Homo sapiens: one gene and its partners. The protein of the gene in region 5 purifies or fractionates together with the protein of the main gene of each other region. This does not show direct contact. Each region holds a gene or a part of one and is shown on either strand. Other genes may lie near its edges. The genes, in order: STK33, UGGT1, KRT6A, PKLR, EFNA3, POTEE and SUMF2.

Region 1 (3,500 bases), on a different chromosome or scaffold from region 5:
TCATACCCTCCCTTCCCACCTCTAACCAATCTTCTTTCAAGGCCGGGTCCTTCAATGATTCATAATGTAGGGAGGATTCCAGAACAAAGTCCTACATAAGTGACCTCTGGAACTTCATACATATTCCTTCATGTCTGAAGTGCCAGCCTGGACTGTGTCTTGAGAGAATGAATACTGTTAACTGGATACATTAAGGATGGCTGCTCAACAAGACTAGAACTCCTGAGCTGCTGGGCCACTCCTCAACTTTCAGTTATTAATAACACAAATAAGGCAGGGCAAGAGAGGCCTGAGAGACACAGCCTTGGAGCAAGCCAATCAGTGAGAGACTATGGGCAATGATCAGAGCAAGACTATGATAATGCCAACGTCAGCAACACCAGAGGATAAACCTCTGGTTTAGGCGCCTTCCTCCTTATGCCTGGCCCTTCTCCAACAGCTCTCTCTCTACTAGGTCTCAGCCATCCAATAGGAAAGGTCTTTTCTGTTACCAAGTGCCAGGGCAAACAGGAGATAGACCCTTTCAGACAAAGCATACAGCCACAGAGGGAGCTCTCCATGAAGTGAAAGGTCATAACCCTAAGGTAAACAGGCAGTTAATCTAGACAGGATGCTATATGAAGACAATGAGGAAGGCAAAATCCCAAAATAGCAGATTCTTAGAGAAAATGCTACAGACAAAAGACAAAGAAAATGATTTTTTTTTTTTTTTTTGAGATGGAGTATCACTGTCCCCCAGGCTGGAGTGCAGTGGTGCGATCTCAGCTGACTGCAACCCCCGCCTCCTGGGTTCAAGTAATTCTCCTGCCTCAGCCTCCCAAAGAGCTGGGATTACACGCATGCACCACCAAGCTCTGCCAATTTTTGTATTTTTATTAGGGACGAGGTTTCACCATGTTGGCCAGGCTGGTCTCAAACTCCTGACTTCAGGTGATCCACCTGCCGTGGCCTTCCAAAATGCTGGGATTACAGGTGTGAGCCACTGCACCCAGCATTTTTTTTTTTTTTTTTTTTGAGACGGAGTCTCACTCTGTCACCCAGGCTGGAGTGCAGTGGCGCAATCTCGGCTCACTACAACCTCTGCCTCCCAGGTTCAAGCAATTCTCCTGCCTCAACCTCCTGAGTAGCTGGGACTACAGGCGCCCACTACTACACCCGGCTAATTTTTGTATTTTTAGTAGAGATGCAGTTTCCCCATGTTGGCCAGGCTGGTCTCGAACTCCTGACTTCAGGTGATCCACCCGCCTCAGCCTCCCAAAGTGCTGGGATTACAGGCATGAGCCACCGCGCCCAGCCAAAAATGATTTTTTTAAGCTAGCGTTAGAAGAAGAGCAAGTCCAAGACAGATGTTAATTAACTACAAATTGTGTTTCTGTCTTATCCAACAAAATGGACCTCAGGCAGGGCTTGGTGGCTCACGCCTGTATTCCAAGCACTTTGGGAGGCTGAGGCAGGCAGATTGCTTGAGCCCAGGAGTTCAAGACCAGCCTCAGCAACATGGCAAAAACCCTGTCTCTACAAAAAATACAAAAATTAAAAATTAGCACCAGGTGCAGTGGCTCACACCTGTAATCCCAGCACTTTGGGAGGCCAAGGCGGGCAGATCACTTGAGGTCAGGAGTTCGAGACCAGCCTGACCAACATGGTAAAACCTCGTCCTACTAAAAATACAAAATTAGCCAGGTGTGGTGGCACACACCTATCATCCCAGCTACTTGGGAGGCTGAGACAGGAGAATCGCTTGAACCTGGGAGGTGGAGTTTGCAGTGAACCAAGATTGCGCCACTGTACTCCAGCCTGGGCAACAAGAGCAAAACTCCATCTCAAAAAACAAAAAATTTAGCCAGGTGTGGCAGTGCATGCTTGTGCTCCCAGCTACTCAGGAGGCTGAGATGGGAGGATGGCTTGAGCCCAGGTGGCAAAGGCTACAGTGAGCCAAGATCGTGCCACTCCACTCTAGCCTGGTCAAGAGAGCCAGATCCTATCTCGGAAAAAAAAAAAAAAAAAAACACCTGACTTCAAATCCCAACCCAACCTGGCATAACAGGGTCTCTGTAAAATGGCATGCTAGCCTGTCCAGTCATTGTCTGCCATTATTCTTCTAGATCTCAACTTCCTCTAAGACTTACATGCTTTTCCACCTCTAGGCCTTTGAGTCTGCTGCTCCTTCTGCCTCAGCTTCCTCTTCCCTTTTGCTCATCCCTCCCTGACTTCCCCCAAGCAGACACAGAAGTGCTCTCCTCCATCTCCCTTCACACCAACCAATGTGTCTGTTATAGCACCTGCCTCAGGGGATTATAATTTATTGGCTTGGGCTGGACACAGTGGCTCACACCTGTAATCCCAGCACTTTGGGAGGCCAAGATGGGTGGATCACTTGAGGTCAGGAGTTTCAGACCAGCCTGGCCAACATGGTGAAACCCCGTCTGTACTAAAACTACAAAAATTAGCTGGGCATGTTGGCAGGCACTTGTAATCCCAGTAACTCGGGAGGCTGAGGCAGCAGAATCACTTGAATCCGGGAGGTGGAGGTTGCAGTGAGCCAAGATCACACCACTGCACTCCAGCCTGGGTGACAGAGCAAGACTCTGTCTAAAAAAAAAAAAAAAAAAAAAAAAAAAATTATTAGCTTGTTTCCCTCCACAACAGATTATGAGCTCGACATGGAGTGTATCTTTTTATCTTTGTATCCCAAAAACCTAGCATAGTATCTGGCTCATAATTTAGTAAGTGAATGACTCAAATTAGGGAAGTGAGGATGAGTGCAGTGGCAACTGCATGCCAGGCTGTGTGTCATGTGTATCTGGCATCTCTCCCTCAGTGATTTGTGACAGACAGAATGGTGTCTGATGCACAGTAGGTGATCAACAAAAACAATAAATTAAGCGAACAAACATGAAAAGAGCTATAACAGATTCAGCAAAGTATTATTTATGACATCAAGTATGAAGCTCCCTTCAAACTCTAAGACTCTATGGAGTTTTTTTAATTGCATTTATACAAATTTATTAGAAAATTTGAAAACATTTTTCAATGGGATGGGAAACTAGTATTTATTGAAGGGCTACATATTTGTTAGGCACTTTACCTATGATATTTGCTTTTCAGAATTCTGGGAAATTGTAATTATAAGCCCCATTTTATAGAAAAAGGAACCAAAGCTAGAAATGCAGGACCAAAATTTGAACCCAGGTGAGCCTGAGCTCACCAATCCTAAGCTTTTCCACACTGCACGCTTGAACCTCTGGAAAGAACACGAGGCACACCTCCCTATCATTCCACTCCAAGAAAAGGAGTTCTGAACAAGCCACGGCTCAACTGGATCACAATTCCAGAGGGAGGAGTTTTCAATGGAAGGTAAAAAAAAAAAAAAAAAAAGATGAAAAGTTCTTTCTTCCCTTGAAGATCATCATCTTTTCTTTGTGGAAAGGTTCACATGGCCCTTCCTGTTTCTCCCATGAGGCTGTAGGGAAAATCTTAAGGCCTCTTCTTGGGAAAGG
Region 2 (3,500 bases), on a different chromosome or scaffold from region 5:
CAGTTCATATGATGCGCTGTCTCCAGTTTATAAACTCATTGACTCAGGCCAGATTAAAAAAAAAAGAAAAACTCTGTAACTTTTGGGGAGAATTTTTTCTCTCAGCCACAGAGGATATATTTCCAATGTGTATTTTTGAGGCTATTTAATAACGATGATGTACTATTCTGTAATTTAGAAGATAGTTTTTTCTTACGATAAAATGTTTTACTACAACAATCAATTCTGGTATAGTACTTGGCACTTTACAAAGTGATTTTTTTATTGCCTCTTCATTTTCACATTGACCCTGTGAGGCAGATACTATTATTCCTACTTTGATAGTCTTCGAGACTAAGGGCCTGGGAAGTTAGGTAACATATATGTGGTTAAACTGCTAGTACGTAGCAAACTCAGGAATTGATCACAGCTGCCCTGATGCTAAAAGGTTCCCTTTTTTTACAAACCGTGTCTATTGTGTCCTGTAGAGCAGGTTTCTGAGGCTGCAGTCTGTGGGCCTGTGGGAAAGGGTGTCTATGGTTAGTCCTAAGAGAATGCTTTTTTTTTTTTTTTTTTTTTTTTTTTTTTGAGACGGAGTCTCTCTCTGTCGCCCAGGCTGGAGTGCAGTGGTGCGATCTCGACTTACTGAAACCTCCACCTCCCGGGTTCAAGCGATTCTCCTGCCTCAGCCTCCTGAGTAGCTGGGATTACAGGCACCTGCCACTATGCCTGGCTAATTTTTGTATTTTTAGTAGAGACGGGGTTTCACCACATTGGACAGACTGGTCTTGAACTCCTGACCTCAGGTGATCCACCCACCTCAGCCTCCTAAAGTGCTGGGATTACAGGCGTGAGCCACTGCGCTGGGCCAGTCCCAAGAGAATTCTTAAGTTGTACATAAAATTTGGGTCCTTGTTTGCTCCTCTGTGGGAAATGTCAGTAACTTTACTAGATTCCAGAAAAGGCCTATATCCTCTTCACTCAACCAGCCAGGAATCACTGCTATCAGGTTTCATTGTGTAAAATCTAGTTTGGTTATCTCTAATTTCAGTAGGTTTCATTTTTGTGTGTGTATTCTTTCATTTCTGCAGCCTCTATAGCAGTTTTTACAAACGTTGATTTTGAAAAACACTTCTGAGTGTTTTTATTTATAAGTGGGATGTTCTTCTTCTTCTCCTTCCTCTTCTTCTTCCTCTTCCCCTTCCCCTTCCCCTTCTCCTTCCCCTTCCCCTTTACCTTCCCCTTCCCCTCCTCCTTCTCTTCCTCCTTCTTTCTTCTTTCTTTCCTCTTCCTCCTCCTCCTCTTCCTCCTCCTCCTCCCCCACTCTCCTCCTGTCCTGCTCTCCTCCTGTCCCGTAACTCCTCCTGTCCCGCTCTGTTGCCCAGATGCAGCATGGACCTCCTAGGCCCAAGCTATCTTCCCACCTTAGCCTCCCAAGTAGCTGGGACCATAGGTGCATGCCACCATGCCTGGCTGATTTATTAATTTTTTTTGGTTTCCAAAGAAGCTGGCAGTGCCTGAACTTAAAATGCTTCTGAAAGCCACTTTTCTATTTGTTATAATTTATTTTGCTTTTGACCATCGTTCTTCAGAGATACTGTATGTTCTATGAAGCAGGATGTTAACACAAATGATGCTTTTTATAAAAAGCAGCTATTGACTAGTCCCCAATGTGGACAGCCTCCCTCAGTGATAGATTTTGTAACCAATATTAAAGAACTGGGATGAGACCGAAGTGAGCCTTACCAGAGCTAACATTCTGAAGCCCAAGGATAGCTTAGTGCTTCCCACATATTCACACCCCCTTTTAGTTCTCATTCAAATGGGTAGAGCTCAGGGGAGGTCCGATTAGGGTTCTGTTAGGTGGACTTTGGAGATGAAAATCAGAGAAATCTGCAGCTGGAGACCTTTTTCTGAAACTGTCTGGATGCTGTCTGAGAGGATCTTGACAGGCTTGGAGCGGCTGCGGAGGGTGTCAAGAGGCCTGCATTCTGTGGCCATCCACTTTGCCAGTGACCCTAGATCCCTCATTTTGTAGATGGGACAGTTGGCTTGGGAAGCCACTAAAATTTTACATTTCTTTATTTCAGAACCTGTCTGAGTTTACATTTGGGACCCATTATGTTAGTTTCCTAGGGCTACCACAACAAAGTATCACAAACTGGGTGGCTTAGAACAATAGATATTTACTGTCTCACAGTGCTAGAAATCCTTACTCAGGGTTTCACAGGACCACGTTCCCGCTGAAATCTTTGGAGGAAGAATCTTTCTTTGACTCTTCAGCTTCTGGTAGTTTCAGGCATTCCTTAGCTTACAGTATAATTTTAGTGTGTGCCTCTGTCTTCACCTGGTGGTCTCCTGTGTCTCTACATAGTTTTCCCTCTGTGCTGTCTTTCTCTGTCCAGATTTCTCCTCTTTATAACATCAGTCATTGGGTTAGTGCCCACCTAATAACCTTGTTTTAACTGATGACCTCTGTAAAGACTGTATTTACAAATAAGTTGACATTACGAGGTACCGGGGGATAGGATTTCCATATCTTTTTTGGGGGACACAGTTCAACCCTTAATACCTATCATTTATATTTTCATCTATCTCAGCTTTATTTGCTTTCATCCTTTATAAAATATGGTTGTGTGCAACCTGGTGTGCCACCAACTGATTTTTATACCCCTGTATGGTGTAGATTGCTTGGGAAATGAAGCAGAGCCTTTGTAGGAAAGAATGTAATAACCTAAGTGCCTTCAGTTACATATCAGTCACTCAGCAAATATCTGTTGGACTAGCTAGATATTAAGTGCTATTATATGTCAGAAGCATTTCTGTTTCGCTAACTTATGTTATTTTGTGTCTCCAAGTATTATTAGGATTGTTATTTTGTGTCTCCAAGTATGAGGTTAAAATTACCTTGTAGCAGGCCAGGCATGGTGGCTCATGCCTGTAATCCCAACACTTTGGGAGGCTGAGGCGGGCAGATCACGAGGTCAGGAGTTTGAGACCAGCCTGGCCAACATTGTGAAACCCTGTCTCTACTAAAGATACACAAAATTAGCAGGGTGTGGTGGTGCGTGCCTGTAATCCCAGCTACTGGGGAGGCTGAGGCAGGAGAATCGCTTGAACCTGGGAGGCAGAGGTTGCATGAGCCGAGATTGCACCACTGCACTCCAGCCTGGGCGACAGGGCGAGACTGCGTCTCAAAAAAAAAAAAAATTTCCTTGTAGCAAAACTTCTTTTCTTTTTTTCCTTTTAGGAGTTTGCTATAAAATGGGAGTTCTGGTTGTACTCACTGTTCTGTGGCTGTTCTCCTCAGTAAAGGCCGACTCAAAAGCCATTACAACCTCTCTTACAACAAAATGGTTTTCCACTCCATTGTTGTTAGAAGCCAGGTAAGAGAACATTTTTTTTCCCTTCGTGTATTTGAGTATAAATATAGGCTCTGACAGTGAACATTCAGGAGCTTTTTAAGGAGTGAGATTATCATCAAATGCATTTATGAAGAGCCTCTTTCAGTGTATACTGTA
Region 3 (3,582 bases), on a different chromosome or scaffold from region 5:
AGTATAATTACGGTTCAGTGTATGCACATTTTAATTGTGCTTGATACATGTTGTCAGGCAAGTTTCTTGCTTATGAGGGCAATTATAATGATTAATCACATATCTGATTCTTTTGTCAAATAACTTGCTCTAGTTGGCCGAGAATATGTTTCTTAACTGGACAATTAGGCTGAGCCCTGGCGTAAGGGGAAAAGTGGTCCTGGAAACCAAGGCAGAGGGAATGGGATGCTAGTTCCTGGTATGGTCAGTTAAAACGGAGTGGACAATGCTGGTGGACCAGATGCCTCCCACTCCATTTGCCAAAAGTTCATATGGAATTTGATCTAGAAATACACTCTGAATGTCATGATACCAAGCTGAAGTTTGATGAACCTCTCTAAAGGAGGGGAGTTATGTGTATAAAGAATAGATTATCTTTTAAAAACAACTATTCACTTATCAGATAAAAAAGTTTAAGCCCAAAACTTTGGCCCCAAAGCAAGGCAAAGTAAAAGAATATATTGTATTATAAATCTGCTTTATTTAGCAATTGCAAACAGCGAAGAGCACAGAAATCATCACAGAGATACAGGCTTTGTACATCATAGGACTAGTCACTTGTGCTTTCATGGATACTGCCTGGGTGGGGGTTCACAACACTTATAAGTTAGAGAGTTTGAGAGCCAGTGGAAAGTAAGTGGAAGTTGTTCTGAAATAAGCCCCTGGCAATTTTCTGCAATGAAAAGGAGCAGAGGTCATTTTCTTATAATGCTCAGCCTCAGAGATAGAACACTGGAGGCAAGAAATTAATAATTTAGTAACAGTGAAGCTCCAGTGGTGATTACATCATGATGTAAAATCAGAGGTTGATCTGATGGTGAGCAATGGGTGCTCAGATGGTATAGAGAGAGAGAGAAGAAGTGAGGGCACTAAGCATCCATACCCAGCTCTACCTGGGACAGCAGGGGAGACTGGAGGCCAGGAGAGGAAAGGCAACCTGAGGAGAGGGCTCTGCAGCCAGAGAGGGGCCTGAGGACTGTGGGACCGAGAGCTAGCAGACGCACTTTAGTGCTTATAGCTCTTCCTGCTGGAGGAGGAGGTGGTGGTGTACTTGATGGTGGAACTGCCGCCTCCAACAGAGCTGAGGCCACCCCCAATGGCTCTGCCACTGCTGGAACTGAAGCCACCTCCAACGCCAAGACCACTGCCATAGGAGTAGCTGCTTCCTCCACCCAGGCCTAAGCCACTGCCGACACCACTGGCACCGCCATAGCCACTGGAGACGGTGGACTGCACCACAGCTGTGATGGGGAGGGGACAAGGACACAAGAAGCCATGGTGAGCTCATCCTGTCAGCCTGAGCCCAGTCAGAAGAGTGCGAGGGCAGGGGAGGAAGGCAAGCAAAGGTACTTACAGATGTTGACTTGTCCAACGCCTTCGCCATTCAGCCTGTGGAGAGGAACACAGGGAGGGTGAGACCTCAGAGAGCTCTTCCTTCCCTGGACCAGCGTGGGCAGCCTCGGTGGGTGGAAGAGTCCATGGGAAACTGCTCTTTTAGTTTTCTCTCAGGAAGAGCAATTATGGCCATGGGCAGTGCACCTTAAAGTTGTGCTCAGTGCCAGGAACCTTGAAGATGGACTCAGCTGTTGAAGGAGTTCGTGTCAGTTACCCACCTGCACTCCTCACCCTCCAGCAGCTTGCGGTAGGTGGCGATCTCCACGTCCAGGGCCAGCTTGACATTCATCAGCTCCTGGTACTCCTTCAGCAGCCGGGCCAGGTCCTGCTTGGCCTTCTGCAGGGCATCCTCCAGCCCTTCCAGCTTGTTCTTGGCATCCTTGAGGGCCATCTCCCCACGCTGCTCAGCATCAGCAATGGCGGCCTGCAGGTTGGCGCACTGGAAGAGGAAAGGAATAGAAGAAACTTGTCATCCGGTCTTCCAGAGGAGACTAAACCTGGCTGGTTATTTCCTAGTGAAGGGGCCAGGAGCCCAGAATTGATGGTGAATGAGCTCTGACTCTTCCTATCTATTGTTTTTTTTTTTATTTTGCAGTTTTTGTCCAGTCTGGTTCATTTGACAAAAACTCATAACCCTTTTTGTGAACCACTCTGTGGGAGAATGTGGATATTTACTAATGGGAGACACTGCAGTGGACACATACACTGGAAGAAATGTACCTGCTGGTTTGTTTGGAGTGTTGTCTCCACAGTCAAATCAAGACCACTTATGATTACCTCATATAGATGCCACACTAACATACACAAAATTAAGACCATCCTGAAGTGAGGTGATGAGTCTTCACATGAGACTGCTGAGACCTTGCCTTCCTCCCCCTCAGAATCTCTCATCTACTGTTCTTTGTCCTTTGCCCTTCCTCTACTCTCTCTTTCACCTTGAGTCTTGAGCAGATTTGAAACAATGTTCCTTGTGCTTTCTTATCTGCCCTTTTCTTTTTCAATTTGTTCCTTTGCAGTTTCCAAGTCAGTCTTCCTATGGAAATAAATCCAATTCCTCTAGACCAAGCTTGTCCAACCTACAGCCCACAGGCCACATGCAGCCCAGGATGGCTTTAAATGCAGCCCAACACAAATTCTTAAACTTTCTGAATACATTATGAGGGTTTTTTCTTTTTCTTTTTCTTTTTGAGACAGAGTTTTGCTCTGTCACCCAGGCTGGAGTGCAGTGGCGCGGTATCGACTCACTGCAACCTCCACCTCCCAGGCTCAAGCGATTCTCCTGCTTCAGTCTCCTGAGTAGCTGGGACTACAGGCACGCTCCACCATGCCCGGCTAATTTTTATGTATTTTTAATAGAGGCGGCGTTTCACCATGTTGGTCAGGCTTGTCTCTCACTCCTGACCTCATGATCCACTAGCCTCAGCCTCCCAAAGTGCTGGGATTACAGGCATGAGCCACTGGACAAGGCTGTATGTTTTGTTTTGTTTTGTTTTAGCTTATCAGCTATTGTTTGTATTAGTGTATTTTATGTGTGGCCCAAGATAGTTCTTCTTGTTCCACTGTGGTCCAGGGAAGCCAAAATACTGGACACTCCTGCTCTAAACCATGTTTTTGCAGCTCTGAGCATCGTGACTGGTTCTCTCATGTGTTTGTGTCATGCCATAGGTAGGATCTATGTCTCCTAAGCAGCAGGTACCCACTAAGGGTAGGAAATGATAGCCTCCTCTCCCTGGTTTTGATAAGTTCCAGGGGATTTTCCCTAATATAATGGTTGATGGCTGCCTGACGACCTGACAAGGAAATGCTTCTCTCCTCCATTGTCCCTCACCATACCTGCTTCTTGACGTGGTCGATCTCAGATCTCAGCCTCTGGATCATGCGGTTGATCTCAGCAATCTCCTGCTTGGTGTTGCGCAGGTCGTCCCCATGTCTGCCTGCTGTGACCTGCAGCTCCTCGTACTGCAGCCCAGAGGTGGAGAGAGAGACAGTGTCTACGGGTTCTTACCTGGGAGCGATGACTTTCACTTGTGTATCATGCATGTCATGAAGTGGACCTAAAGGCTTCTCCTCAAGAAACTTGAGGAAAAGTTGATATTATGTGGTTGGTGGATACTAAACACTGGAGTCACAGACCATCCTCATTATGGC
Region 4 (4,059 bases), 210 kb from region 5:
CTTTAAAAAAAAAAGAAAGAAAACAAGGCTGGGCATGATGGCTCACACCTGTAATCCCACCAGTTTGAGAGGCCGAGGCTGGTGGATACTTGAGGCCAGGAGTTGGAGACCAGCCTGGACAACATGGTGAAACCCCATCTTTACTAAAAATACAAAAATTAGGCCAGGCACAGTGGCTCACACCTGTAATCCCAGCACTTTGGGAAGCTGTGGCGGGCAGATCACCTGAGGTCAGGAGTTCGAGACCAGCCTGACCAACATGGTGAAACCCCGTCTCTACTAAAAATACAAAAATTAGCCAGGCGTGGTGGTGCATGCCTGTAATCCCAGCTACTCAGGAGGCTGAGACAGGATAATCGCTTGAACCCAGGAGGCAGAAGTTGCAGTGAGCCAAGATCACGCCACTGCACTCCAACCTGGGCAACAGAGTCAGACTCAGTCTCAAAAAAAAAAAAAAAAAGAAAAGAAAAGAAAAAAGAAAAACAAAATTAGCTGGGTGTGGTGGTGCACGTCTGTAATCCCAGCTACTCGGTAGGCTGAGGCAGGAGGATCGCAGAGGTTGCAATGAACTGAGATTGCGCCACTGCACTCCAGCCTGGGCGACAGAGTGAGACTCTGTGAAAAAAAAAAGAAAAAAAAGAAAAAAGAAAAAGAAAAAAGGAAGGAAGGGAGGGAGGAAAGAAAATTTCCCTGGGGGTAGGAGTCTATAAGTTTAGCAAAATAGTCGATCTTTCAGTGTTTCCAGCAACAACCTAATCAAGTTTATCAGTGTCTGAGAATGTTCAAGGTACCATCTTGGGTTCAAACATGTAGGCGAAAACATGCAGCTGGCCAGGTTACAGAGTGGTGAAGGCACTCTGCATTTCTTGGTTGAGACAGAGAAAAAAAGTGGTCAGAACTGGGTAACCCTCCCCCCACCATATTATCACAGTGATCCCTTTTGTCTTTCTTCAGGCTCCAGCCCCACCCTACAGCCCCTGCTCCCTGGATTCACTAGAGCTAACTTCAGTAAAGTACAAAGAAAATGGGGCCATATGACTGGCCAAAAAAAAAATATCTATTCACGTGGATGACCAGATAGTATGAATGGATTGAAAATTTATCAGGAAAAAAGGATGAGAGGAAATGCCAGGAGATGAGGGCAGAGAGCAGGCCGTTCTGGGGGAGGGATTCTGTGGGGACAGGGTGGCCTACTGGGTGTGCCCCTTTTCTCTTCTCTGTCTCCCTTAGATAAGACCAGCAGTTTTGTCATCCTCTCCCTCTCATTCCATGGTCCCGCAGCCCCAGGCCCACACTGAAAGCATGTCGATCCAGGAGAACATATCATCCCTGCAGCTTCGGTCATGGGTCTCTAAGTCCCAAAGAGACTTAGCAAAGTCCATCCTGATTGGGGCTCCAGGAGGTAAGAAGGGGAGACAGAAGCCATGGAACATAGGAGGAAAATGAGGGTGAAAACTAGGAGCCAGGGTGGAGGGCATAAATGATCCACATCAGCCACTGGCTAGGTGGGTTTTGGAGAGGAACGTACGTTCTTCAGAGCCTCCCGTGTGTTAAATTATGGACCCTGGCCTGGGTCTTTTCCAGGCCCTATAGGCAGGCCAGAGCCACAGCATGTAAGCCACGGGGCACTCCCGTGGTTCCTGGACTCTGGCCCCTGGCATACAGGGCTTCCAATGGAACAGGAGACAGTGGTGACACTTTAACCAGTCTGCAGAACTGATCCCCAGCCCAGCTGGGCCTCATGCCTCTGACAACCCAACAGTGTGGAGCAGACCCACAGAGAGGGAGACCCAGAGAGGTGTGCAGTGGCATGGAAGGTGCGGCTGGAATCGGGGGCTCCTCTGAACTGGGATGGGTCAAGCTACAGGGACCTCTGTGTCTGTAGCAGCTTTGAGAAGCCTGGGGAGACTCAGAGGATGGGGTGGGGAAGCCAGCCAGTAGCCAGGGGTTGGAAGGGAGAAAACAGAGACCTTTGGAGCAGGAACTGGGTGATTCTGGGTCTGCATAGGGTGAGGCTGCTGGGGACTAGACATCAAGGGGTGGTGGGGTTGAGGGTCATCAGTAGCTGCAGGTCGGGGGGTCCTGGGTTGTGCGGGGTCAGTATAACTGAGTGGTCAAGAACTTGGGCTAGAGTTAGTCAGACCTAGATTTGAATCCTAGCTGATCCATACTTAGAAGCTGTATAATATTGGACCATTTATTTCCTGTTTCTCAGCCTCTGTTTCTTTATCCATAAAATTGGATAATTATAGAACATTTAACAGTACCTGCTTTATAGGATCCTTGTGACATAATAAAATAATATATGCATGATGCCCAGCTCATAAGAAGGGAAGGAACAGAGGGTATGCTGAGAGACGAAGGCATGGGGAGGAAGGGCAGGTGACATGCAGTCCCTGAGCCCCCTTCTACCACAGGGCCAGCGGGGTATCTGCGGCGGGCCAGTGTGGCCCAACTGACCCAGGAGCTGGGCACTGCCTTCTTCCAGCAGCAGCAGCTGCCAGCTGCTATGGCAGACACCTTCCTGGAACACCTCTGCCTACTGGACATTGACTCCGAGCCCGTGGCTGCTCGCAGTACCAGCATCATTGCCACCATCGGTAAGCACTCCCATCCCCCTGCAGCCACACAGGGCCTATTGGTATTTCTTGAGGTGCTTCTTCATCTTTTGTCTCCTTTGAGACTTCTCCATGTTTGACACAGTCATTCATTTAACAAAAATTTGTTGAGCATATAGTAGACAAGATTTTGGGCCCTGGGAGTAGATCAGTGAAAAAAACAGACAAAAATCCCTACCCTTGGGGAGCTGACAGTCTAGCTGAGTATGACAATAAATAGTAAGCACAATAAATTATTTAAAATAAGTAAATTATTTATTCCGTTAGAAAGTGAGGCCGGGCATGGTGGCTCATGCCTGTAATCGCAGCATGTTGGGAGGCCCAGGTGGGCAGATCACTTGAGGTCAGGAGTTCGAGACTAGCCTGACCAACATGGAGAAACCCCGTCTCTACTAAAAATACAAAATTAGCCGGGCATGGTGGTGCGTGCCTGCAATCCCAGCTACTCAGGAGGCTGAGGCAGGAGAATCGCTTGAACCCAGGAGGCGGAGACTGTGGTGAGCCGAGATCACACCATTGCATTCCAGCCTGGGCAACAGGAGAAAAACTCCATCTCACAAAAAAAAAAAAAAAAAAAAAAAAAAAAAAGTGGGCTGGGCTCAGTGGCTCATGCCTGTAATCCCAGCACTTTAGGAGGCCAAGGTTGGCAGATCGCTTGAGCCCAGGAGTTTGAGACCAGTCTGGGTAAATGGCAAAACCCATCTCTACAAAAAATACAAAACTTAGTTGAGTGTGGTGGTGCATGCCTGTAGTCCCAGCTACTCAGGAGGCTGAGGTGGGAGGATCACTTAAGCCCAGGAGGTCACGGCTGCAGTGAGTCATGATCGAGCCACTGTACTCCAGCCTAGGTGACAGACGAGACCCTAGAGAGAAAGAGAGAAAGAAAGAAAGAAGGAAAGAAAGAAAGAAAGAGAGAGAGAAAGAAGGAAGGAAGGAAGGAGGGAGGGAGGGAGGGAAGGAAGGAAGGAAAGAAAGCAAGCAGGCAAGAAAGAAAGAAAGAAAAGAAAGAAGGAAGGAAGGAAGGAAGGAAAGAAAGAAAGAAAGAGAAAGAAAGAAAGAAAGAAAGAAAGAAAGAAAGAAAGAAAGAAAGAAAGAAAGAAAGAAAGAAAGAAAGAAAGAAAGAAAGGAGTGAAAGTTGGCCGGGCATGGTGGCTCTTGCCTATAATCCCAGCACTTTGGGAGGCTGAGGCAGGTGGATCACCTGAGGTCAGGGGTCCGAGACCAGCCTGGCTAATGTGGTGAAACTCTGTTTCTACTAAAAATACAAAAAATTAGCCAGGCATGGTGGCATGTGCCTATAATCCCAGCTACTCGGGAGGCTGAGGCAGGGGAATCGCTTGAACCCGGGAGACAGAGATTGCAGTGAGCCAAGATCACGCCATTGCACTCCAGTTTGGGCAACAAGAGCGAAACTCTGTTTGTTTGTTTGTTTGTTTTTAAA
Region 5 (3,101 bases):
CCCCGGGGGCAGAGACAGGGCTGAGCCGCGAGGAAGCTCGGAGGAAAAGTCGGAAGGCTACGCGGACCCTGGGGAGGGGCTGCGGAGCGGTCAGATGGAAAGCGGCTTTGCTCTGGGGTTTCTTCTCTCTGAGCCGCTTCCTCTTCCCCACAGCCTGCGGCGAGAGGGCTACACCGTGCAGGTGAACGTGAACGACTATCTGGATATTTACTGCCCGCACTACAACAGCTCGGGGGTGGGCCCCGGGGCGGGACCGGGGCCCGGAGGCGGGGCAGAGCAGTACGTGCTGTACATGGTGAGCCGCAACGGCTACCGCACCTGCAACGCCAGCCAGGGCTTCAAGCGCTGGGAGTGCAACCGGCCGCACGCCCCGCACAGCCCCATCAAGTTCTCGGAGAAGTTCCAGCGCTACAGCGCCTTCTCTCTGGGCTACGAGTTCCACGCCGGCCACGAGTACTACTACATCTGTGAGTGACGGCGGCCGGGCGGGCGGGTCTGAACGCGAGAGTCTGAGTGACAGCCGGGGGGTGGAGCCCCTAGGCTCCGGGGCGGGGCCGGCGCGGCGGGCGCCAGGTCTCGCGGCTGAGACCAGGGAGGAGGCGTGGGCACGGGACGCCTGAGGGGTTCAGCTCAGACGAGGTCGTGGGGCCAAGAGAGGAGTTTGGTGACAGTCCCAAGTTTGGGCTGCGGAGAATCGCTGTTTCTGTGAGGGACATTCCGGGGTTGGAACATCAGGGATCCCAGTTTCTTGAGGGGTGGGACCAAAGGGGCGTCTAGGGCCGACGGCAGAGCTAAAGTGACCCGTGTCCAAAGGGTAGGGGAGCTCCTGAAGGAGACCGCCCGACGGGGACAGTTTGGAGGGGGTGAGAAATAGAGCCGTCGAGGGAGGGCACAGGCACACATTGGGCGAAAGTGACTCAGGCCCGGTCTCCTCCCCAGCCACGCCCACTCACAACCTGCACTGGAAGTGTCTGAGGATGAAGGTGTTCGTCTGCTGCGCCTCCAGTGAGTAGAATAGGCTCCGAGCCGCGCCCCCATCCTCAGCTCCCTGCTTTGGGGCTCCCCTGGCTTCCTGGGGGTGGGGGCGGAGGGCACAGGTGAGGGGGGCTTGCTCCCCAGCCGTAGCAAGGGGAGGGAATCCTGGCCCTGACTCTCCCCTCCTCTCTCCCCACCCGCACCCCACCCCGCAGCATCGCACTCCGGGGAGAAGCCGGTCCCCACTCTCCCCCAGTTCACCATGGGCCCCAATGTGAAGATCAACGTGCTGGGTGAGTCTGCGCAGCGCCCTCTGGTGGCCACTGCTGGAACCGCAGCCCCCCGCCCCGGTGCCTGCTCACCTCGCATGCCTTCCCTGGGGGCACTGATACTTCCTACCCTGTGGGTGGTCACGTCCCTGGCTCCATTGCTGCTGCCGCGTGCCCCTGCCCTGGCGCGCAACCCAGCCCTCACCAGTCTGTCTGTTCCTCTGTCCACAGAAGACTTTGAGGGAGAGAACCCTCAGGTGCCCAAGCTTGAGAAGAGCATCAGCGGGACCAGCCCCAAACGGGAACACCTGCCCCTGGCCGTGGGCATCGCCTTCTTCCTCATGACGTTCTTGGCCTCCTAGCTCTGCCCCCTCCCCTGGGGGGGGAGAGATGGGGCGGGGCTTGGAAGGAGCAGGGAGCCTTTGGCCTCTCCAAGGGAAGCCTAGTGGGCCTAGACCCCTCCTCCCATGGCTAGAAGTGGGGCCTGCACCATACATCTGTGTCCGCCCCCTCTACCCCTTCCCCCCACGTAGGGCACTGTAGTGGACCAAGCACGGGGACAGCCATGGGTCCCGGGCGGCCTTGTGGCTCTGGTAATGTTTGGTACCAAACTTGGGGGCCAAAAAGGGCAGTGCTCAGGACTCCCTGGCCCCTGGTACCTTTCCCTGACTCCTGGTGCCCTCTCCCTTTGTCCCCCCAGAGAGACATATGCCCCCAGAGAGAGCAAATCGAAGCGTGGGAGGCACCCCCATTGCTCTCCTCCAGGGGCAGAACATGGGGAGGGGACTAGATGGGCAAGGGGCAGCACTGCCTGCTGCTTCCTTCCCCTGTTTACAGCAATAAGCACGTCCTCCTCCCCCACTCCCACTTCCAGGATTGTGGTTTGGATTGAAACCAAGTTTACAAGTAGACACCCCTGGGGGGGCGGGCAGTGGACAAGGATGGCAAGGGGTGGGCATTGGGGTGCCAGGCAGGCATGTACAGACTCTATATCTCTATATATAATGTACAGACAGACAGAGTCCCTTCCCTCTTTAACCCCCTGACCTTTCTTGACTTCCCCTTCAGCTTCAGACCCCTTCCCCACCAGGCTAGGCCCCCCACACCTGGGGGACCCCCTGGCCCCTCTTTTGTCTTCTGTGAAGACAGGACCTATGCAACGCACAGACACTTTTGGAGACCGTAAAACAACAACGCCCCCTCCCTTCCAGCCCTGAGCCGGGAACCATCTCCCAGGACCTTGCCCTGCTCACCCTATGTGGTCCCACCTATCCTCCTGGGCCTTTTTCAAGTGCTTTGGCTGTGACTTTCATACTCTGCTCTTAGTCTAAAAAAAATAAACTGGAGATAAAAATAACTGAGTGTGTGTGATTTCAAGGGGCCATCACCCTTCTGTTACACTGGTTAAACCTCACAGGGCACAGGGCCTGAGTAGGAGAGGGAATTCTGGGGCCAAAGAGTCACAACGAGGTGTTCAAATCTTGTTCTGGGGCTCATCTTCATTACAAAGGCAGCGCTGCTTGGAAAGAGCAAGAGGGGCCTCCAGGCAGGGCCTGGTTGACTTTGGGCAAATCACTCAACCTCTCTGATTCTCAGGTATCCCACCAGAAAAACTGGTTGTGGTATCTCTCTCTTAGGGTTGGTGTAGGGATTAAATGACGCAGGGAGTTAAAGGCTCCATCAATTATGGTTTCCACCTTTTCTTCCCCTTCCATGCTGTAATTGAGGTTCTTGACTGGAGTCTATGGATTTCAGGGGATTTGAGAACCTAGACAGAAAAAAAACTATCTTTATTTTCACTTGCCTATAACTAAAATTTAACATTCTCTTGTGTGCTTGGGCAGCAAGCCATAATAG
Region 6 (3,500 bases), on a different chromosome or scaffold from region 5:
CAGGTGGATCACGAGGTCTGGAGATCGAGACCATCCTGGCTAACATGGTGAAACCCCGTCTCTAGTAAAAATACAAAAACTTAGCTGGGCGTGGTGGTGGGTGCCTGTAGTCCCAGCTACTCGGGAGGCTGAGGCAGGAGAATGGCATGAACCCAGGAGAGGGAGCTTGCAGTGAGCCGACATCCACCACTACACTCCAGCCTGGGTGACAGAGCGAGACTCCATGTGAAAAAAAAAAAAAAAAATTTTAATAGATTCTTAAAATTTATTGTAATAAAATCAGCAACCTTATTAACAGAAGAATCAATAGATTCTAATTTAATATTTGATATTTAACTTCAACATAACCCACTATAAAATTTAAAATACTCTTATTTTAAAATATTCTTATCTGCCTTCTTGATTAGCTTATAGCTAATCTCTCCTTTTGGAATAGAGGCAAAAACAAATTTCAGAACTTTGTTTGTTCTTTTATTTTTACAACACCCTAACATGATAAAGAAAGTAACATCAATGATTGAATCATATTATTAAGCAATAGGAATTATGAACAATGTAACACTGATTCCCTGAGCTGGATTCATGGTTAAAGAGTAATCATGGCCTGTGATTGAAAATCCACAGTTTTATATTGTCAGTCACTGATACCAAGGTTAAGGACATATCCTGCCTTGTGGTCTCTCGTTGACCTCAGTGTTTCTGTTCAGGGAGGGAACCAGGTCATAAAAGCAACCCAACTGCCTATTACAAGAACCATATCTTGCAGAATGGGACCTTTGGTGTTAGTGCACAAACACAATAACATTCTAATTTATTTCAGTTGCAGAAAATCAGTAGAGATTAAAAAATTTTATCTGCTGTCATTAGTACACATTAGAATATATTAGAACTGGACTTACGCAGATAATCTGGATACATAACACTATCATATGACAGTATATAATTTCAATTAAAATGTGAGAATTTGCATTTCTTTCTGTTTGGTGTTGATTTCGGCTCCTAATAGTTTAAAGGGTGCCTACAATCCAGTTAGGAATCTTTTAAAAAAGCACTTCAGTGCACTGTAGGTGCTCACTAGTTAGGGTTTCATGAGGTAAACTCTTTTCAAGTGAGGAAGATTTTGGAACACTACAAATCATCTGCTGATTCATTTTTGGTAGATTTAACACATAACAAATTAAATTTAGTCCAAACAAATAGTGAGAAAGTTAAGTTTGCTGGTTCATGTTTTTCTTCTCCCTTTGTCTAAGGTGAATTATTTTTCACATGTTAGAAGCCAGTGATGTGGCAGTAGCTAAACATAGATTAAAAAGTTAATTCTTAATTTTAATTATTATTTATTTTAACAGTTTAATTTTAATTACTTTCTAATTTTTATTGTCCATACTTGATTACTTCAGAATAAAATTATTTTAAAAACATGCACTCCAAAAGAGGAAATGTCACAGAAATACAGCAAGCAAATTAACCTTCTGTTTTTACATCTGCAGAAAAGATCTCAAGAACCAGAAATAAATAAGGATGGTGATAGAGAGGTATACCTTTATATTCAAACGTTTGTGTTGAATTAGATTTTTACATTATGTTGTTTAACAAAGTGTAGTAAATGTAGGCATACATGATCCTATCATGTAAGTAGCATAAATCATCAGTGAAAAATTAAATAGTTAACTCAGAATTCTGTACATTGAATTTTGAAGAGGTGCAAACCCTAGAGCTATTCTTTCATTATTATGGAATAATCCCGAATGGTGCCATAAAATGCTAGGTAATGCCACTTTAGGAGCTTTAGACCAATTATTTTATCTTTCTTGGTTTTAGTCTGATTATCAATAGATAATGTGCCTAAAGTAGATAATTTCTTATTCTCTGTATTTTCCAGCTAGAAAATTTTATGGCTATCGAAGAAATGAAGAAGCACGGAAGTACTCATGTCGGATTCCCAGAAAACCTGACTAATGGTGCCACTGCTGGCAATGGTGATGATGGATTAATTCCTCCAAGGAAGAGCAGAACACCTGAAAGCCAGCAATTTCCTGACACTGAGAATGAAGAGTATCACAGGTAAGCCTATGGCAACATTGAACAGGAGGTAACTTTGTGCTGCCAAACTAATCCTAATTTGAGCTAATATTCATGATGAACAAATTTTATACTTTTATTAGGATATTGAGCCTTGCCTGTTAATCAGAAAAATGAAAATCAGCAAACAATCAGTTACCGTTTTTTTTCCAGTCATTAATTTATTTGAAAAATAACCAGTATTGGCAAATGTGAGGGAAAAGGCATTTTCTTCTCTTTTCAGTGAACTTTTATTTTAGCTTCGGGGTACGTGTGCAGGTTTATTATATAGGTAAACTGTATCATGGAGGCTTGGGGTACAGATTATTTCACCAGCCACATAGTAAACAAAATACTCGAAAGGTAGTTTTTTGGTCGTCTCCCTCCTGCCATGCTCCTCCCTCAAGTAGGCCCCAGTGTATGTTATTCTCCTCTTTGTGTCCATGAGTTCTCATGTTTAGTTCCCGCTAATGAGTAAGAATATGTGGCATTTGATTTTCTGTTCCTGCATGAGTTTTCTTAGGATAATGGCCTCCAGCTCCATCCGTGTTGCTGCAGGGGAAATGGTTTCATTGAAAAAGACATTTCATATACTGTTGGTAAATACATTTTGAACATTAATTGAGTAGCATATTCACACACACATATATAACAGTAAGCATATATAATACATGTAAAGGATATTTGTATAGATATGTTATATGTATACTTATGTATAAGGACATTTATTATAGTATTATGTAAAAAATTTGGAGCTAGTCTAATTCCTTATCAATAGGAAATAGCTCAATTTCCATATCCCCAAAATAATGTATTATGCAACCATTTTTAAAAAATGAGGTTAGATGTAGGGTATACTGATTATTTCACAATTAAAATGTATTTAAAGCGTTTAGTTTGATGACACATCTTAAGAGTTCTTGTTAAAATTCTTGTAATATCTGCTGTGTTGCAAATGGAAGCTACATGCTACATTGACACTGTACCTTGTTAGCAACAAGATTGCTAGTTACTAAATTTTTGTTGTCAGTGCCTGAGTGCTGAAATATTGGACCCTCAATCTGAATATTGCCAAGCGATTGTACATGGGGATCTATATTTAATATAAACATTTCAGTATATTTGGTAAAACTTTTATTAAAATACATCAAAGAATCTTTGATCTACTAAACCAGGAGTTGGCCAGCTTTTTCTGCAAAGAGCTAGTTAGTAAATATTTTAGGCTTTGTGGACTACATATATTGATTTTCTTGAGACAGGGTCTCACTCTGTTTCCCAGGCTGGAGTGCAGTTGTGTGATCATGGCTGACTGCAGCCTCGACTTTCTGGGCTCTAGTGATCCTCTGACCTCAGTCTCTACTAGCTGAGACCACGGGTGTGCAACATCACACCCAGCTAACTGACACTATGGACTGTAAAGTGAATAAGCATGGCTGTGT
Region 7 (3,442 bases), on a different chromosome or scaffold from region 5:
TCTCTACCCCTCGTACATCCAGGAACACTGAGTTTCAAAGAAGGATAGGGGAATATCAGGGAAAGCGCTCAGCAGGCCTGTTTCACCTGCCCGAATCCTGTTTCCTGTTACCCATCCATTTCTCCCTTCAGCCTCCTGTAGTCTCTTTTTTCTGACTCCGACCACTGGTCACTCACCCGGCTCTCTTCCAGCTCTCTTGCTCCATCTAGTGGTAAAAGCTGAACGCGGGCGCCCTAAACCTAGCCTGCCTCCGACTTAATGCGCTCCCGGAAGCCTGTCTCACTTAATCCTGGCTGTCAGCCTGCAGGTCCTGGCTCTGGCATCCGAGAGAGACTGGAGCACCCAGTGTTACACGTGAGCTGGAATGACGCCCGTGCCTACTGTGCTTGGCGGGGAAAACGACTGCCCACGGAGGAAGAGTGGGAGTTTGCCGCCCGAGGGGGCTTGAAGGGTATCCAGATGATAAGGCGATTTTCCTTTATTCTTCTCCCCATCCTGCCCAGCATGAGGGGCTTTAAAGGGTGGAAAGGGGCTGGGCGCAGTGGCTTATGCCTGTAATCCCAACACTTTGGGAGGCTGGGGCAGGAGGATCGCTTGAGGCCAGGAGTAAAAGACTAGCCTGGGCAATATAGGGAGACCCTGTCTCTCCGAAAAATACAAAAATGAGCTGGGCCTGGTGGCATGTGCCTGTAGTCCCAGCTACTCAGGAGGCTGAGGTGGGAAGATCCTTTGAGCCTAGGAGTTCAAAGCTGCGGCGAGCTATGATCGCACCACTGCTGTCTGGCCTGAGTGACAGAACAAGACCCTGTCTCAAAAGAAAAAGCGGGGGGATGGGGCAGGAAGGGTCTGTGTTCCCTAGAGCAGTGCTTCTTAAGCTATCTGTGGTGGAGGACCAGTGTTTTTTTTTTTTTTTAATTTCTAGTCCATCTCAGACTGATATAAAATACCATAAAAATTAATAACTGGAAAATTGAAAGAACAGACATAAAATATTTTATTGGAAATTCCACAGACATGTTACATTTCAATAAATATAACTAGAGCAACATAGCATAAGGAAAAAGAATTACCAAGACTACACACTTCTGCCTCTGGGGTACAGAGATTAATGTTAAGAGTCACTGTTTGCGGCCGGGCGCAGTGGCTCACGCCTGTAATCAAAGCACTTTGGGAGGCCGAGGTGGGTGGATCACGAGGTCAGGAGGTTGAGACCATCCTGGCTAACACAGTGAAACCCCGTCTCTACTAAAAATACAAAAAAAAATTAGCTGGGCTTGGTGGCGGGCGCCTGTAGTCCCAGCTACTTGGGAGGCTGAGGCAGGGGAATGGCGTGAACCTGGCAGGTGGAGGTTGCAGTGAGCCGAGATCACGCCACTGCACTCCAGCCTGGGCGACAGAGTAAGACTCCGTCTCAAAAAAAAAAAAAAAGAATCACTGTTTGCTCCTAACTCGGTCATTTGTCATTCTGCAATCCTAATTACACAAAAAGTTAGGACAGCAAAAAGCAACTCCGCACATTAAACCCCTCTACACAATCTTTCAGTGAACACCAGGTACATCAGTGATCAAAGTTTTTTGTTTTTTGTTTTTTGTTTTGAGACAGTCTAGCTCTGTCGCCCAAGGCTGGAGTACAGTGGCACGATCTCAGCTCCCTGCAACCTCCGCCTCCCGGGTTCAAGGGATTCTCCTGCCTCAGCCTCCCTAGTACCTGGGATTACAGGCACCTGCCACCATGCCCGGCTATTTTTTTTTTTTTTTTGAGACAGAGTGTCGCTGTGTCGCCCAGGCTGGAGTATGGTGGCGCGATCGCGGCTCACTGCAAGCTCCGCCTCCCGGGTTCACGCCATTCTCCTGCCTCAGCCTCCCAAGTAGCTGGGACTACAGGCGCCCGCCACCTCGCCCGGCTAATTTTTTGTATTTTTAGTAGAGACGGGGTTTCACCGTGTTAGCCAGGATGATCTCGATCTCCTGACCTCCTGATCCGTCTGCCTTGGCCTCCCAAAGTGCTGGGATTACAGGCGTGAGCCACCATGCCCTGCATAATTTTTGTATTTTTAGTAGAGACAGGATTTCACTGTGTTGGCCAGGCTGGTCTCGAACTCCTGACCTCGTGATCCATCTGCCTCGGTCTCCCAAAGTGCTGGGATTACAAGTGTGAGCCACCGCGACCAGCCAGTGATCGAAGTTTTTAATATGACCTGTGAGGTTGCCTCTGGCTCATTCATTTATGCAATCTAAGTCCAATTTCAAGTTTCTCGATTTCTGTACTTTTCTCAACATGAACTGATAACAGATGCTTTATAAACTGGCTCAGGTCCCAGAACCATGCTTAGGATTACATTGCCCTGGAGCACATGAGGAGGCCAGGGCCCTCTAATGCAGTTCAGCGAGTGGAGAGGATGGGCATGGCAAATAAAAGCAGGTCATTCACTCTTTTTTCTCATCACCCTCTAACTTCCTTTTGATTCCCTCACTCTTTCTGTGTTCTTTTTTCCTTCCCTAATTCTTCACCTCCCCCTCCTCTGCTGCCTCCTTGCTCTCCTCGCAGGTCAAGTTTACCCATGGGGGAACTGGTTCCAGCCAAACCGCACCAACCTGTGGCAGGTAAGACCTACGTTCCTCCTTTCACCAAGCATTGACAGAGACCTGCTGGAGGCTGGGCACTGTGTTGTTAGGCCGCGGCATCCAGAAGGCTTGGGTTCTAATGCAACTGATGACTCATAAGCTGGTAAAGCAAAAGACAATGGGTCATAAGTGCTTTCTTTTTTTTTTTTTTTTTGAGACAGAGTCTCTCTCTGTTGCCCACGCTGGAGTGCAGTGGTGCGATCTTGGCTCACTGCAACCTCCGCCTCCCAGGTTCAAGCGATTCTCCTGCCCCAGTCTCCCAAGTAGTTGGGATTACAGGTGCCTGCCACCATGCCCAGCTAATTTTTTTGTATTTTTAGTAGAGATGGGGTTTTGCCATGTTGGCCAGGCTGGTCTCAAACTCCTGACCTCAGGTGATCCACCCGCCTTGGCCTCCTAAAGTGCTGGGATTACAGGCATGAGCCACCGTGCCCAGCCAGCGTAAGTACTTTCTATTAAAGAGTTGTAGGGCTGGGTGCAGTGGCTCACGCCTGTAATCCCAGCACTTTGGGAGGCCGAGGCGGGTGGATCACCTGAGGTCAGGAGTTCAAGACCAGCCTGGCCAATATGGTGAAACCCTGCTTCTACAAAAAATAAAAGATGAGCTGGGCATGGTGGCATGCACCTGTAATCCCAGCTGCTTGGGGCTTGGGCAGGAGAATCACTTGAACCCAGGAGGCGGAGGTTGCAGTGAGCTACCACTGTACTCTAGCCTTGGCGACAGAACGAGACCCTGCCTCAAAAAAAAAAAAGTGAATAAAAAATAAAACTAAAATAAGCAAATAAAAAAGCACTGTCCTGAGAAGGCCAGCAGGAA

Evidence for each region.
Region 1: the proteins of EFNA3 (region 5) and STK33 purify together in Homo sapiens (affinity purification with mass spectrometry, with the first as the bait; one study listed by BioGRID). This does not show direct contact.
Region 2: the proteins of EFNA3 (region 5) and UGGT1 purify together in Homo sapiens (affinity purification with mass spectrometry, with the first as the bait; one study listed by BioGRID). This does not show direct contact.
Region 3: the proteins of EFNA3 (region 5) and KRT6A purify together in Homo sapiens (affinity purification with mass spectrometry, with the first as the bait; one study listed by BioGRID). This does not show direct contact.
Region 4: the proteins of EFNA3 (region 5) and PKLR purify together in Homo sapiens (affinity purification with mass spectrometry, with the first as the bait; one study listed by BioGRID). This does not show direct contact.
Region 6: the proteins of EFNA3 (region 5) and POTEE purify together in Homo sapiens (affinity purification with mass spectrometry, with the first as the bait; one study listed by BioGRID). This does not show direct contact.
Region 7: the proteins of EFNA3 (region 5) and SUMF2 purify together in Homo sapiens (affinity purification with mass spectrometry, with the first as the bait; one study listed by BioGRID). This does not show direct contact.

Annotation. Positions count from the first base shown.
Region 1 is NC_000011.10:8,584,229-8,587,728, forward strand, and holds part of STK33 (serine/threonine-protein kinase 33), read right to left. Parts: intron 1-3,500. UniProt on the Homo sapiens protein: Serine/threonine protein kinase required for spermatid differentiation and male fertility. Promotes sperm flagella assembly during spermatogenesis by mediating phosphorylation of fibrous sheath proteins AKAP3 and AKAP4.
Region 2 is NC_000002.12:128,094,200-128,097,699, forward strand, and holds part of UGGT1 (UDP-glucose:glycoprotein glucosyltransferase 1 precursor), read left to right. Parts: intron 1-3,229; coding exon 3,230-3,365; intron 3,366-3,500. UniProt on the Homo sapiens protein: Recognizes glycoproteins with minor folding defects. Reglucosylates single N-glycans near the misfolded part of the protein, thus providing quality control for protein folding in the endoplasmic reticulum.
Region 3 is NC_000012.12:52,486,676-52,490,257, forward strand, and holds the end of KRT6A (keratin, type II cytoskeletal 6A), read right to left. Parts: intron 3,394-3,582; coding exon 3,268-3,393; intron 1,874-3,267; coding exon 1,653-1,873; intron 1,429-1,652; coding exon 1,394-1,428; intron 1,281-1,393; coding exon 1,045-1,280; 3' UTR 501-1,044; downstream 1-500. UniProt on the Homo sapiens protein: Epidermis-specific type I keratin involved in wound healing. Involved in the activation of follicular keratinocytes after wounding, while it does not play a major role in keratinocyte proliferation or migration.
Region 4 is NC_000001.11:155,298,639-155,302,697, reverse strand, and holds the start of PKLR (pyruvate kinase PKLR), read left to right. Parts: upstream 1-1,259; 5' UTR 1,260-1,302; coding exon 1,303-1,402; intron 1,403-1,745; exon of another isoform or gene 1,746-1,810; coding exon of another isoform or gene 1,811-1,817; intron 1,818-2,417; coding exon 2,418-2,600; intron 2,601-4,059. UniProt on the Homo sapiens protein: Pyruvate kinase that catalyzes the conversion of phosphoenolpyruvate to pyruvate with the synthesis of ATP, and which plays a key role in glycolysis.
Region 5 is NC_000001.11:155,084,938-155,088,038, forward strand, and holds the end of EFNA3 (ephrin-A3 precursor), read left to right. Parts: intron 1-153; coding exon 154-467; intron 468-939; coding exon 940-1,005; intron 1,006-1,190; coding exon 1,191-1,268; intron 1,269-1,475; coding exon 1,476-1,606; 3' UTR 1,607-2,601; downstream 2,602-3,101. Other genes in the region: EFNA4-EFNA3 protein precursor, read left to right, coding at 154-467, 940-1,005, 1,191-1,268, 1,476-1,606. UniProt on the Homo sapiens protein: Cell surface GPI-bound ligand for Eph receptors, a family of receptor tyrosine kinases which are crucial for migration, repulsion and adhesion during neuronal, vascular and epithelial development.
Region 6 is NC_000002.12:131,251,036-131,254,535, forward strand, and holds part of POTEE (POTE ankyrin domain family member E), read left to right. Parts: intron 1-1,490; coding exon 1,491-1,535; intron 1,536-1,882; coding exon 1,883-2,064; intron 2,065-3,500.
Region 7 is NC_000007.14:56,074,286-56,077,727, forward strand, and holds part of SUMF2 (inactive C-alpha-formylglycine-generating enzyme 2 isoform b precursor), read left to right. Parts: intron 1-300; coding exon 301-451; intron 452-2,548; coding exon 2,549-2,604; intron 2,605-3,442. UniProt on the Homo sapiens protein: Lacks formylglycine generating activity and is unable to convert newly synthesized inactive sulfatases to their active form. Inhibits the activation of sulfatases by SUMF1.